3 linked regions of the Homo sapiens genome follow. The protein of the gene in region 2 purifies or fractionates together with the protein of the main gene of each other region. This does not show direct contact. Each region holds a gene or a part of one and is shown on either strand. Other genes may lie near its edges. The genes, in order: CAD, STK33 and GLUD1.

What was found.
Region 1: the proteins of STK33 (region 2) and CAD purify together in Homo sapiens (affinity purification with mass spectrometry; one large-scale study listed by BioGRID and IntAct). This does not show direct contact.
Region 3: the proteins of STK33 (region 2) and GLUD1 purify together in Homo sapiens (affinity purification with mass spectrometry; one large-scale study listed by BioGRID and IntAct). This does not show direct contact.

Annotation. Positions count from the first base shown.
Region 1 is NC_000002.12:27,220,275-27,223,927, forward strand, and holds part of CAD (multifunctional protein CAD), read left to right. Parts: intron 1-943; coding exon 944-1,073; intron 1,074-1,919; coding exon 1,920-2,062; intron 2,063-2,244; coding exon 2,245-2,386; intron 2,387-2,591; coding exon 2,592-2,763; intron 2,764-3,288; coding exon 3,289-3,474; intron 3,475-3,642; coding exon 3,643-3,653. UniProt on the Homo sapiens protein: Multifunctional protein that encodes the first 3 enzymatic activities of the de novo pyrimidine pathway: carbamoylphosphate synthetase (CPSase; EC 6.3.5.5), aspartate transcarbamylase (ATCase; EC 2.1.3.2) and dihydroorotase (DHOase; EC 3.5.2.3).
Region 2 is NC_000011.10:8,475,678-8,479,330, reverse strand, and holds part of STK33 (serine/threonine-protein kinase 33), read left to right. Parts: exon of another isoform or gene 1-2,047; 5' UTR 2,048-2,081; exon of another isoform or gene 2,082-2,579; 5' UTR 2,580-2,644; intron 2,645-2,658; exon of another isoform or gene 2,659-3,231; intron 3,232-3,653. UniProt on the Homo sapiens protein: Serine/threonine protein kinase required for spermatid differentiation and male fertility. Promotes sperm flagella assembly during spermatogenesis by mediating phosphorylation of fibrous sheath proteins AKAP3 and AKAP4.
Region 3 is NC_000010.11:87,070,774-87,074,426, reverse strand, and holds part of GLUD1 (glutamate dehydrogenase 1, mitochondrial isoform a precursor), read left to right. Parts: intron 1-3,653. UniProt on the Homo sapiens protein: Mitochondrial glutamate dehydrogenase that catalyzes the conversion of L-glutamate into alpha-ketoglutarate. Plays a key role in glutamine anaplerosis by producing alpha-ketoglutarate, an important intermediate in the tricarboxylic acid cycle.

The sequences.
Region 1 (3,653 bases), on a different chromosome or scaffold from region 2:
CTAAGATGGAGGCACAAGCTGTATTGGGTGAGTGGGAGGGGCTTCACAGAGAAAGGATTTGTGATTTCAGTTTTAGATAAAGGAAGAAAGAGGCGGGGCGCGGTAGCTCATGACTTGTAATCCCAGCACTTTGGAAGGCTGAGGTGGGGGGATCGCTTGAGCCCAGGAAGTTTGAGAGCAGCCTGGCAACATGGTGAGACGCTGTCACTACAAAAAATTCAAAAAATTAGCCAGGTGTGATGATCCACACCTGTGGTCCCAACTACTCAGGAGTCTGAGGTGGGAGAATCACTTGAGCCCAGGAGATTGAGGCTGTAGTGAACCGTGTATTTGTGCCACTGTACTCTGCACTCCAGCCTGGATAACAGCAAGACCCTGTCTCAAAAAAAAAAAAAAGGAATGGCTAGGTGCGATGGCTCACTCCTGTAATCCCAGCACTTTGGGAGGCTGAGGTGGGCAGATCACAAGGTCAGGAGATCTGAGACCATCCTGGCTAACATGGTGAAACCCCGTCTCTACTAAAAATACAAAAAATTAGCCGGGTGTGGTGGCGGGCGCCTGTAGTCCCAGCTACTCGGGAGGCTAAAGCAAGAGAATTGCTTGAATCCGGGAGGCAGAGGTTGCAGTGAGCTTAGATGTCGCCACTGCATTGCAGCCTGGGTGACAGAGTGAGACTCTGTCTCAAAAAAAATAAATAATAAATAAATAAAAAGGAAAATGTCATTTTCAGTGATCATCGGGGCACCCTGGGCCTGTGGGTTGTGTTTCGTATAGGAGAGAGCGTTGTTGGTAAATGGAAATACCTATGCAAAAGCACCAAAAGTTTGGTATATTGAAGGCCATTCAATGTGGCTGAATATAGGGTCTGTGGCCACACAATCGGGAAAATGCTGCAAAGAAATAACTTGGCCTGAGGCTTCTCACAATCTCTTTCCATCTACAGTGGTTTGAATCCTCGGGCATCCACGTAGCAGCACTGGTAGTGGGAGAGTGCTGTCCTACTCCCAGCCACTGGAGTGCCACCCGCACCCTGCATGAGTGGCTGCAGCAGCATGGCATCCCTGGCTTGCAAGGTATGGTGGCAAGCAGGGGCATATTTGGGCAGAGCACAGCATGCCTGGATGGAAAGAATCAAGGTTTCTGTAATCTGCTGGGACCTGACTCTAAGATTGTGATAGTTGGAAGGTTTAGATTGGAGTTGGGCTGGGAGAAAGAATTGAACTATCACTCAGAAAGAAAATTTCCAACACAGGAAGGAACTCCCACCTTCCATAATCATCAGCTTAGGGCTAATCTTATTTCATCACCACCACTGGATTATTTTGATGCAAATCTCAGACATCATATCATTTCATCTACAAATAGTTCAATATCTATGCAAAAGGAATCTTTAAAAAACATGATCATAATAACGTCATACACTAAAAAAATTAATAATTCCCTAATACAAGTGTCCAGGCAATGTTTAAAATTTCCCAATTTTTTTTTTTTTTTTTTTTTTTTTTTCTGTTCATTTGAATCTTGCTCTAAACAGGGTTCACACATTGCATTTGGTTGATAAGTCTCTTAATCTGTGGACCTTGTAACCTATTTGAAAACAGGTCATTTTTCCTGTATCTAGTATCCCATAGTCTGCACTTACTTGGTTACACTCCTGTAGTGTTACTTAGCGTATTCTTTTTTTCCCTTTATATTATTTTCTATAAATGGATAGATTTAGAGTTGTTCAATTCAGATGTGATATTTTTGGCAGGAATACTTCATGGTAGTATACTTCTGTCACAATGGCCCAGGATTTTGATGCACATAGAACAGCTGTGTGTGACTGGGGCTCTGGAATGGAAGTGCTTCTGGAAGTCTAACCTCACAGATGACTGAGTTGTAGGAATGTGATCCCTAAGACTGTGCTATTTTGACAGGAGTAGACACTCGGGAGCTGACCAAGAAGTTGCGGGAACAGGGGTCTCTGCTGGGGAAGCTGGTCCAGAATGGAACAGAACCTTCATCCCTGCCATTCTTGGACCCCAATGCCCGCCCCCTGGTACCAGAGGTCTCCATTAAGGTACAGAGGTAGAGTGGGAGAGTGTTGCAAGCTCTAGCACAGTAGTTATATTCTGCCCACAATTGGGGGGTGAACACAGGAGAGAATCAAAGGAGGCTTTGAAGGTAGGAGTTGGTGCAGGCATATCTTATACCCACTGAGCACAGCTGCCAACTGTTGCCCTTTATTCGTCTATTTCTCAGACTCCACGGGTATTCAATACAGGGGGTGCCCCTCGGATCCTTGCTTTGGACTGTGGCCTCAAGTATAATCAGATCCGATGCCTCTGCCAGCGTGGGGCTGAGGTCACTGTGGTACCCTGGGACCATGCACTAGACAGCCAAGGTGAGTAGCTGGGGCCTGTTCAGGGCCTCAGACAAGCAGCTTGGGTGGAAGATCTATCCCTTGGTCCAATTGCTAAAAGTCAGTAGGAGTTGCAGTGAAGAAGATAGACATTGGGACTTAACACTCTCATGGGCTGGGGGGGCTGCAGGTGTGTCTCCTGTAATTGAAATACTGATTTTGATGTCATCTTTTCTGCCCACTCCAGAGTATGAGGGTCTCTTCTTAAGTAATGGGCCTGGTGACCCTGCCTCCTATCCCAGTGTCGTATCCACACTGAGCCGTGTTTTATCTGAGCCTAATCCCCGACCTGTCTTTGGGATCTGCCTGGGACACCAGCTATTGGCCTTAGCCATTGGGGCCAAGACTTACAAGATGAGGTGGGACTTGTGGGGAGCAGAAGGGGCCCATACTTGTGGCATGAGGGGTGGGGTGTCTCAGGAATGAGAAGAGAGTTGGTGTTTATTCGTGTTGAAATAGGAGCGGGGGGGTTGCAGGTGAGGTGGCTCCCACCTGTAATCCCAGCACTTTGGGAGGCCAAGGTGGGCGGATCACTGGAGGTCAGGAGTTCGAGACCAGCCTGGCCAACATGGTGAAACTCTGTCTCTACTAAAAATACAAAAGTTGGCCAGCCATGGTGGCGTGCGCCTGTAATCCCAGCTACTCCAGAGGCTGAGGCAGGAGAATCGCTTGAACCTGGGAGGTGGAGGTTGCAGTGAGCGGAGATCGTGCCATTGCCCTCCAGCCCGGGAAACAGAGGGAGACTCCGTCTCAAAAAAAAAAAAAAAACAAAAAGGAAACAGGAGTGAGGCTACTGAGAACAGGAGATCGGTGAGAGCTGGGGTAGGTTCAGTAGTGAAGAGAGGGTGAGCAGGGCCTGTGACTCGGCATGCTTCTACCTCCAGATATGGGAACCGAGGCCATAACCAGCCCTGCTTGTTGGTGGGCTCTGGGCGCTGCTTTCTGACATCCCAGAACCATGGGTTTGCTGTGGAGACAGACTCACTGCCAGCAGACTGGGCTCCTCTCTTCACCAACGCCAATGATGGTTCCAATGAAGGCATTGTGCACAACAGCTTGCCTTTCTTCAGGTGAGCCTGGTTGACTGGGTCTGTGAAAATTTGAAGCCCTGTGGGCCTTGATGATGGAAAAGTAAAGCACGGCAGTGGATCCGAGTCCCCTGTCCCACTACCCACCTCGAGGCTGCCAGTGTCATGCCAGGGACCATGATGGTTTTCATGATGCAATCTCTTCAATAGTGTCCAGTTTC
Region 2 (3,653 bases):
CTCCCTAGTAGCCGGGATTACAGGTGCATGCCACCACACCCAGCTAATTTTTGTATTTTTAGTAGAGATGGGGTTTCTCTACTAAAACCCCAGGTTGGTCAGGATGTTGGCCAGGATGGTCTCGATCTGACCTTGTGATCCACCCGCCTCAGCCTGCCAAAGTGCTGGGATTACAGGCGTGAGCCACCGCACCCGGCCTCTGTTCTCGCTTTTAACTGTCAGTATAGGGGCCACATTTAAGACTGTCCTTCCGTATTACTGCTTAATCAGTGAGGAACATCATGCAAATTAAAATAGAAAGGAAAAGTTAATAGTAAACATCACTCAAACATTTAAAAAAATTCTGAAATAATGTGAATTTTAAATATACTGTAAATCCTTTTATAAGACAATACAGACTCATTTTCCTAATCATGCCCTTAATGAAAAGAATAAACAAGTGCTAGTCTTCCTTAAAATATAGCAATATCATCTAGAAAACTCACTGGGCCCTTCTTTAGGCTTTGTAAACATGTTACTAAAGCAGTCAGTCATTTGGCTTGGTCTGCAGAATGTCAGACAATTCGTAAGTTTTTTTTTTTTTCCCCTTTACTTGAATAAAACACATTTTGACTGAATTGACTATTTAGGTTTCTTGTAGACACAGTCTTAGCAAAGAAAACTAAAAAAATTGCTTTTGGAGAAGAAAATTATAGCTAGTTATATCTTATAAAACCATTCTTGTGTTCATTTTCTTGAGGAAATTGCTGTAAGTGTATCTTCTAGGGCCAATATGTAAAAGACCTTTTTATGATTAAATTAAAGCCCAGGGATTTTCATTATCAGAATTGTTTTATTGACTTGCCTTAGTTCTAAAAATAAAATGAAAACCTTAAGCCAAAGGAAGGCTCATGTATTAGTTAAGTACTGACATAATTTGAACTTATTTTATTTGCTTATATTATGTCCAGTACCTATGTATGTCCAATCTTTGGAGACACAAAGAAACATTATTGTATTAGAAGATTCTTTGGTTTTTGTAATACATATTTTTATATCTAAAGTCCTGTTTAAACATAATTCCATGATTCTATAGAAAAAGAGCTATTAATCTTTGTGTTTACATAAGTTTGCAATACTTGATTAATTTTAAGCCTCTAAAATATGAGTGACATCATTTGTCCTGTGAAATAGTAGATTTGTTTTAGTAACAAATCTTTCAGATCAATTCGTAAATGAGAAAGAAATAAATGTGAGTAAACATTTGTTCTATCTTGGTTTTTGTTTAAACTAAAATAATTAGAATTCAGCCAGCCAAAAAGAAGTTAAATTTGAAATCTAATTCTTGTCAAGAAATTTTGCATGCAGCTATTCAACCTGTTGTTTTAGAATTGCTGTGGTAAGAAAGTAGAACATTATTTTGGCAAATATAGCACTTGGTAGACTGGAGAGCAAAAATGAAACTTCTCAGTGAGTAATAGAAAGAAATCCTATGCTTTATGCATATAGCTACCAAGTACTTCTAAGGCAACTGATAAATTAGAAGACTGGAGCGAGAAAGTACTCAGAAGTCTGTGACAATGTCAGTGATATGATAATGACTTATTGAAAAATTGATGAAAATTAAAGGAAATGCTTTCTGAACAAAGCTAAGAAAAGAATAGCTGTTTTTAGATCCCCCAAAATCTATCTTAAAATGAAAATTTTAATATTTAAAGATTCCATTGAAAATTTGTGAATATATATATTTGTAAACCTTGAAGGATATGGTAAGTATGCTTTTAGGAGTACTGTTTATCATGAAAGAACTCAGCTGCAGTTAAATAAACCTGTACGTTACGAATACTTCTTACAATTTCTTATAAAAAGTACCATAAAATCAATATTCTTAATGTATGCAAAAAATGATGTTTTACACATCTGACATGGGACTTCTCTACACCTCAGAGAGAAAGCACTATTTTTCCCAAACAGAAAGCCTATCATTTGCAGATCTACTCCACTGCTCTGAGTCATTGATGGTTATGGGTTTTATATTTAACCTGAAATGCAAAACATTTTCTTCTAGGCCTGAAGTTAAATCATTTTGGAAAGTGATACAGGTACATTCTGAATTTTCTTTGTCTTGCTACATATTCTTGAAAAACCAGGTTAAGTGTTTATAAGAGATGTGTATGTGTGTGTGTGTGTGTGTGTGTGTGTGTGTGTGTGTATTTTGAGTGGCATCAGTTGCATTCTTTTCTTCCTCTGCCTGTCTGGAGGGCACTTTTAATGTACCTGTCCTCATACTCTCCATTATGAGTTTTAATCACAATAGAAATTTTTTTCCCACCACTTTGATGAAAGGTCATATTTATTGGGCAGACTTATCTATTCTATTTAATAATCTTATAATATACTATATACATTACCTGGGGTAAATGTAAGTACAGCATTTAGGATTTTAAAATCTATTTACAAATGAGACTGACCTGTAAATCCCCCTTTTGGGGAATACTACTATGGTCAGATTTTGGTTATTTTAAGTGAATAAAATGAACCGGATGGCTTTGCATGCTCTGAAACCATTTATATAAGAATCATCTGTTCAATAAAAGTAGGAGAGGACTCTGCTATGAAACTTCCTGAGTGAAATGATAAGTGGCATGAAGAAAAACAAAGCAAGGTAAGGGGGGAGAGGGCATGGGCTTGTTGTTTTAGATGAGGTGGTTAGGAAAGCCTTTCAAATGAGCAGAAGCCACAGTGAAGCATGGGAGCAGACCGTGTGAATGTTTGAGGGAAGAGCATCCCAGGCAGAGGAAGCAGAAGGGCAAAGCCTTGAGAAGGGAGTATACTTGGCATATTAGAGGAGCAGCAAGAGGCTACTGTATCTGAGAGAAAGGAGATATGAAAGCTGAGAGGTAGTGAAGAGTACGTTTATTTGGGACCGTATAGGCAAAATTCAACAAAATTTCTTTGTCATTTCTGTTTCTTAAGCTTACTCTTTAATTATGTTTTTCTATCTTTTAGATTTGACTGCACACTTAGTATATTTTTATCCTTTCTCCTCTGATTTTAATAAAGGTTTAAGAATATAAATTTTCTTTTAAGTGCAGCTTTGCCTGCATTCTGTTAAGCTTAATGGCCATAAGTCACATGGCTACCCCTAATCTAAAAGAGAAGCCCGGAAATGTAGGATGTTAATGAGCACATTGCTGCCCCAAAGAAGATCAGGATTCTGTTAGTAAGAAAGAATGAGAGGACAACTTTTAGGTAAACTACTAGCAATATCTTTTATAAAATCGTATGAGCCTGGCAGATTTTCCTGCCAATCACAATAGATAAGGATTTGATAAAAGCACAGCTTTCTGATTAGAAAACCAGGTATTTCTTTAATGAAATAAATATATTTAATTTCCTATTCTAGTCAAGTTTATTCCAGTTCAAAGGATAACAGTATATTGCATATATCCCCAGGTTTATCAATCTATGACTACAGAATCTACTTTTAAAGACTGTCTGAAATGGTATAGCATAAAACCATAATAATGTACTCCCAATTACTTCTGGAAGTTTCTCAAAGTACTCCTTTATATGTACTGCAGAGTGTATTTTTCTTCCTCCTCAACTGAGATCTTTCCAACTTGCCACCATGCAGCTGCCAATGGTCCTAGTTAAGTAAAATGCTGCCATAC
Region 3 (3,653 bases), on a different chromosome or scaffold from region 2:
TGGGTTCAAGCAATTCTCTTGTCTCAGCCTCCCAAGTAGCTGAGATTACAGGCATGTGCCACCACACCCAGCTGATTTTTGTATTTTTACTGGAGATGGGGCTTTGCCATGTTGGTCAGGCTGGGCTTGAACTCCTGACATCAGGTGATCCACCCATCTCGGACTCCCAAACTGCTGGTATTACAGATAGGAGCCACTGTGCCCGGCCTCCTACTATTTGTTATAGGAGCTTTTGCCAAACATACAACATTTCTGAAGATATTAATCTTTGTTTGCTTGATGTTTTTGTATCTTACTATTATCTGTGTTTATATTTTCTTTGTGCACAATCTGAATATTCTTTTTATGATATGTAAGTATTTGTCATGTACCCTTTAATTTTCAAGCAGTTTAAACCTATATTTTTTTTAATCTAGAAGGCTTCTAATTTGTTTGAATAGAATATGCATAACTACTTAATAGAATGCTTGCCCTATCAGTATAGTTAATAGAATGTTAATACTTACTGCCGAGCGTGGTGGCTCACACCTGTAATCCCAGCACTTTGAGAGGCCGAGGCAGGTGGATCACGAGGTCAGATCGAGACCATTCTGGCTAACGGGGTTTAGTAGGAATCCCATCTCTACTAAAAACACAAAAAATTTGCCAGGCGTGGTCGCGAGTGCCTGTAGTCCCAGCTACTCAGGAGGCTGAGACAGGAGAATGGTGTGAACCTGGGAAGCAGAGCTTCCAGTGAGCCAAGATCACGCCACTACACCCCAGCCTGGGCAACAGAGCGAGACTCCGTCTCAAAAAAAAAAAAAAAAAAAAAAAAAAGAATGTTAATTGTTACTTAATAATAGAATACTTGTCCTATCAATATCAGTATAGTTAAACAAAATAAGGTCTACTTAAATAGAAAATAAAGTGTATTTTTCTCTACTTTCCTTTCTTAGCATTTCCCCCACAAGTTCCCATGAAATTAAACTATAAAGGCTGGGCATGGTGGCTGGTGCTTGTAATCCCAGCATTTTTGGAGGCTGAGGTGGGAGGATCACTTGAGCCCAGAAGTTCGAGACCACCCTGGGCAATATTACAAGACCCCATCTCTACAAAAAATGAAAACATTATCCAAGCGTGATGGTGCATGCCTGTGGTCCCAACTACTAAGATGGGAGGATCCCTTAAGCCTGGGGGGTTGAGGCTGCAGTGAGCTATGATTGTGCCACTGCACTCTGGCCTGCCACACTCTGGCCTGAGCAACAAAACGAGACCACATCTCAAGAAGAAAGAGAAATGAAATAAAGCTATTCGGATTCATTTTTAGGAAAAAAAAGTCATGAAATAAATGTCATGAAATAACCTAATATAGAAATACAGTAAGTATAGGTAACTCTAAAACTTGACTAGATTTGGCCTGTCTTTGATAATAAAAGGCATTTGGGCCTTTGATGTGCCGCATACCCAGCACTACTGTGAACTTGTGCATCCTTACATGGAGTCTGTTAACGTAAGTTAATATGAGTTAACTATCTCGCTCACACTTTTATAGGAGTGCCTACTGATTCTGAGATATGGTGAATTGAAGTCATCTTCAGCCTGTTAATAGCCTTCATAATTTTTAAAAGGTCTTTCCTCTTCCCCTAAATCTCAAACACATTTTATAGTCTTGAATGGTTTCAGACTTTATTCAGTCATATTTGTCACCCATATCTGCAATATCTCCAGCTTAATTTTATCAGACTTGACAAGTACCTAATAATTCCAAAGGTCAAAAAGTGATTCATTGGAATACTGAAAGAAAACACAGCTTAAACTCTAGTAATTTGATTTATTTGCTTAATGTGCAAAAGCCTCATTGACCCAGGATGCAGTTAAATTGACGTCTTGGCCCAGAAAGCTTTGAAGCCTAGGAGGTAGGCAAAGGGAGTTTTTTCTCTCACTCCTCGGCAAACCTTCAAATTTGATGTTATTTATCTGTTATTTCCTGACTGCCCATTCCACAGAGAGTGTCAGATTGAGGCTCAGACCTGAGCCTGAACCCTGATCCTGTCACATGTGTGTTTAGCATCAGCTTGTAAATTTCTGCAAAACAAAAGAAAAAAAGAGGCTGGGATTTTTATAGGAATTTCATTGAATCTGTACACTAATTTGTGGAGTATTGCCATCTTCCCCACCCTCCCCAAAAAGGTTTTGTCCTTTCACCCAGGCTGGAGTACCAGACAGCAGTCACTGCAACCTTGACCTCCTGGGCTCAAGCAATCCTCTCACCTCACCCTCCCAAGTAGCTAGAACCACAGGGGTGTGCAACTGTGCCTAGCTAATTTTTTAATTTTTTGTGGAGACACGGTCTCATCACGTATCCCAGACTGGTCTCAAACTCCTGAGCTCAAGCAGTCTTCCCACCTCAGCTTCCCAAAATTCTGGGATTATAGGCATGAGCCACTGCACCTGACCAGTATTGCCATCTTAACCATATTAAGCCTTCCAATGCTGAATATGAGATGTCTTTCCATTTATTTAGGTCTCTTGATTTCTTTCAATGATGTTTTGTAGTTCTCATTGTAGAAGTCTTACATAGAAGTCTTACAACTAAATATTTTACTCCTTTTAATGCTATTGTAAGTGACATTGGTCTATAGTTTTCTTATGATGTCTTTGTCTAGTCTTTGTATCAGGACAATTCTAGCCTCATGGAATGAGTTGAGGAGTGTTCCTTCCTCTTCTGCTTTTGGAAAAGCTTTTGAAAGGTCAATGTTCATTCTCTTGTGTGAGTGTAAATATCACCTAAGTTCTGCAGGACCCTGATGTCTCCACCCTTCTCATCCCCTTATATCTCTGTGTACCAAAATTACCCTTTCATCTCCTACTCTATAGTCACATGCTGTTAGAAAAGTTGCTTTTTTAAAAAAGATTAACTTCTGCCTCATACCTGTTCTCTATATAAGAATTTATCTGTTAGGCCAAGCATGGTGGCTCATGCCTGTAATCCCAGCACTTTGGGAGGCTGAGGCGGGTGGATCACCTGAGGTCAGGAGTTCGAGACCAGCCTGGCCAACATGGTAAAACCCCGTCTCTACTAAAAATAAAAAAAAATTAGCCAGGCAGGTACCTGTAATCCCAGCTACTCAGGAGGCTGAGGCAGGAGAATTGCTTGAACCTGGAAGGCGGAGGTTGCAGTGAGCCGAGATCATGCCATTGTACTCCAGCCTGGGCAGCAAGAGTGTAACTCCTTCTCAAAACATAAAAATTAAAAAAAAACAAAAAGAATATATCTGTTATTCAGGAACTACTTGTTTTTTGTTTTTGTTTTTGTTTTGAGACAGAGTCTTGCTGTGTCACCCAGGCTGGAGTGTAGTGGCACGATCTCAGCTCACTGCAAGCTCCGCCTCCCGGGTTCACGCCATTCTCCTGCCTCAGCCTCCCAAGAAGCTGGGACTACAGGCGCCCGCCACCACGCCCGGCTAATTTTTTGTATTTTTAGTAGAGACAGGGTTTCACTGTGTTAGCCAGGATGGTCTCGATCTCCTGACCTTGTGATCCACTCACCTCGGCCTCCCAAAGTGCTAGGATTACAGGCATGAGCACCGCACCCGGCCTCAGGAACTACTTGTAATCTGTGCATCCCTATACATTAGTTTTGTATGGAGTAGAAAACTCATAAGCCTAATAAC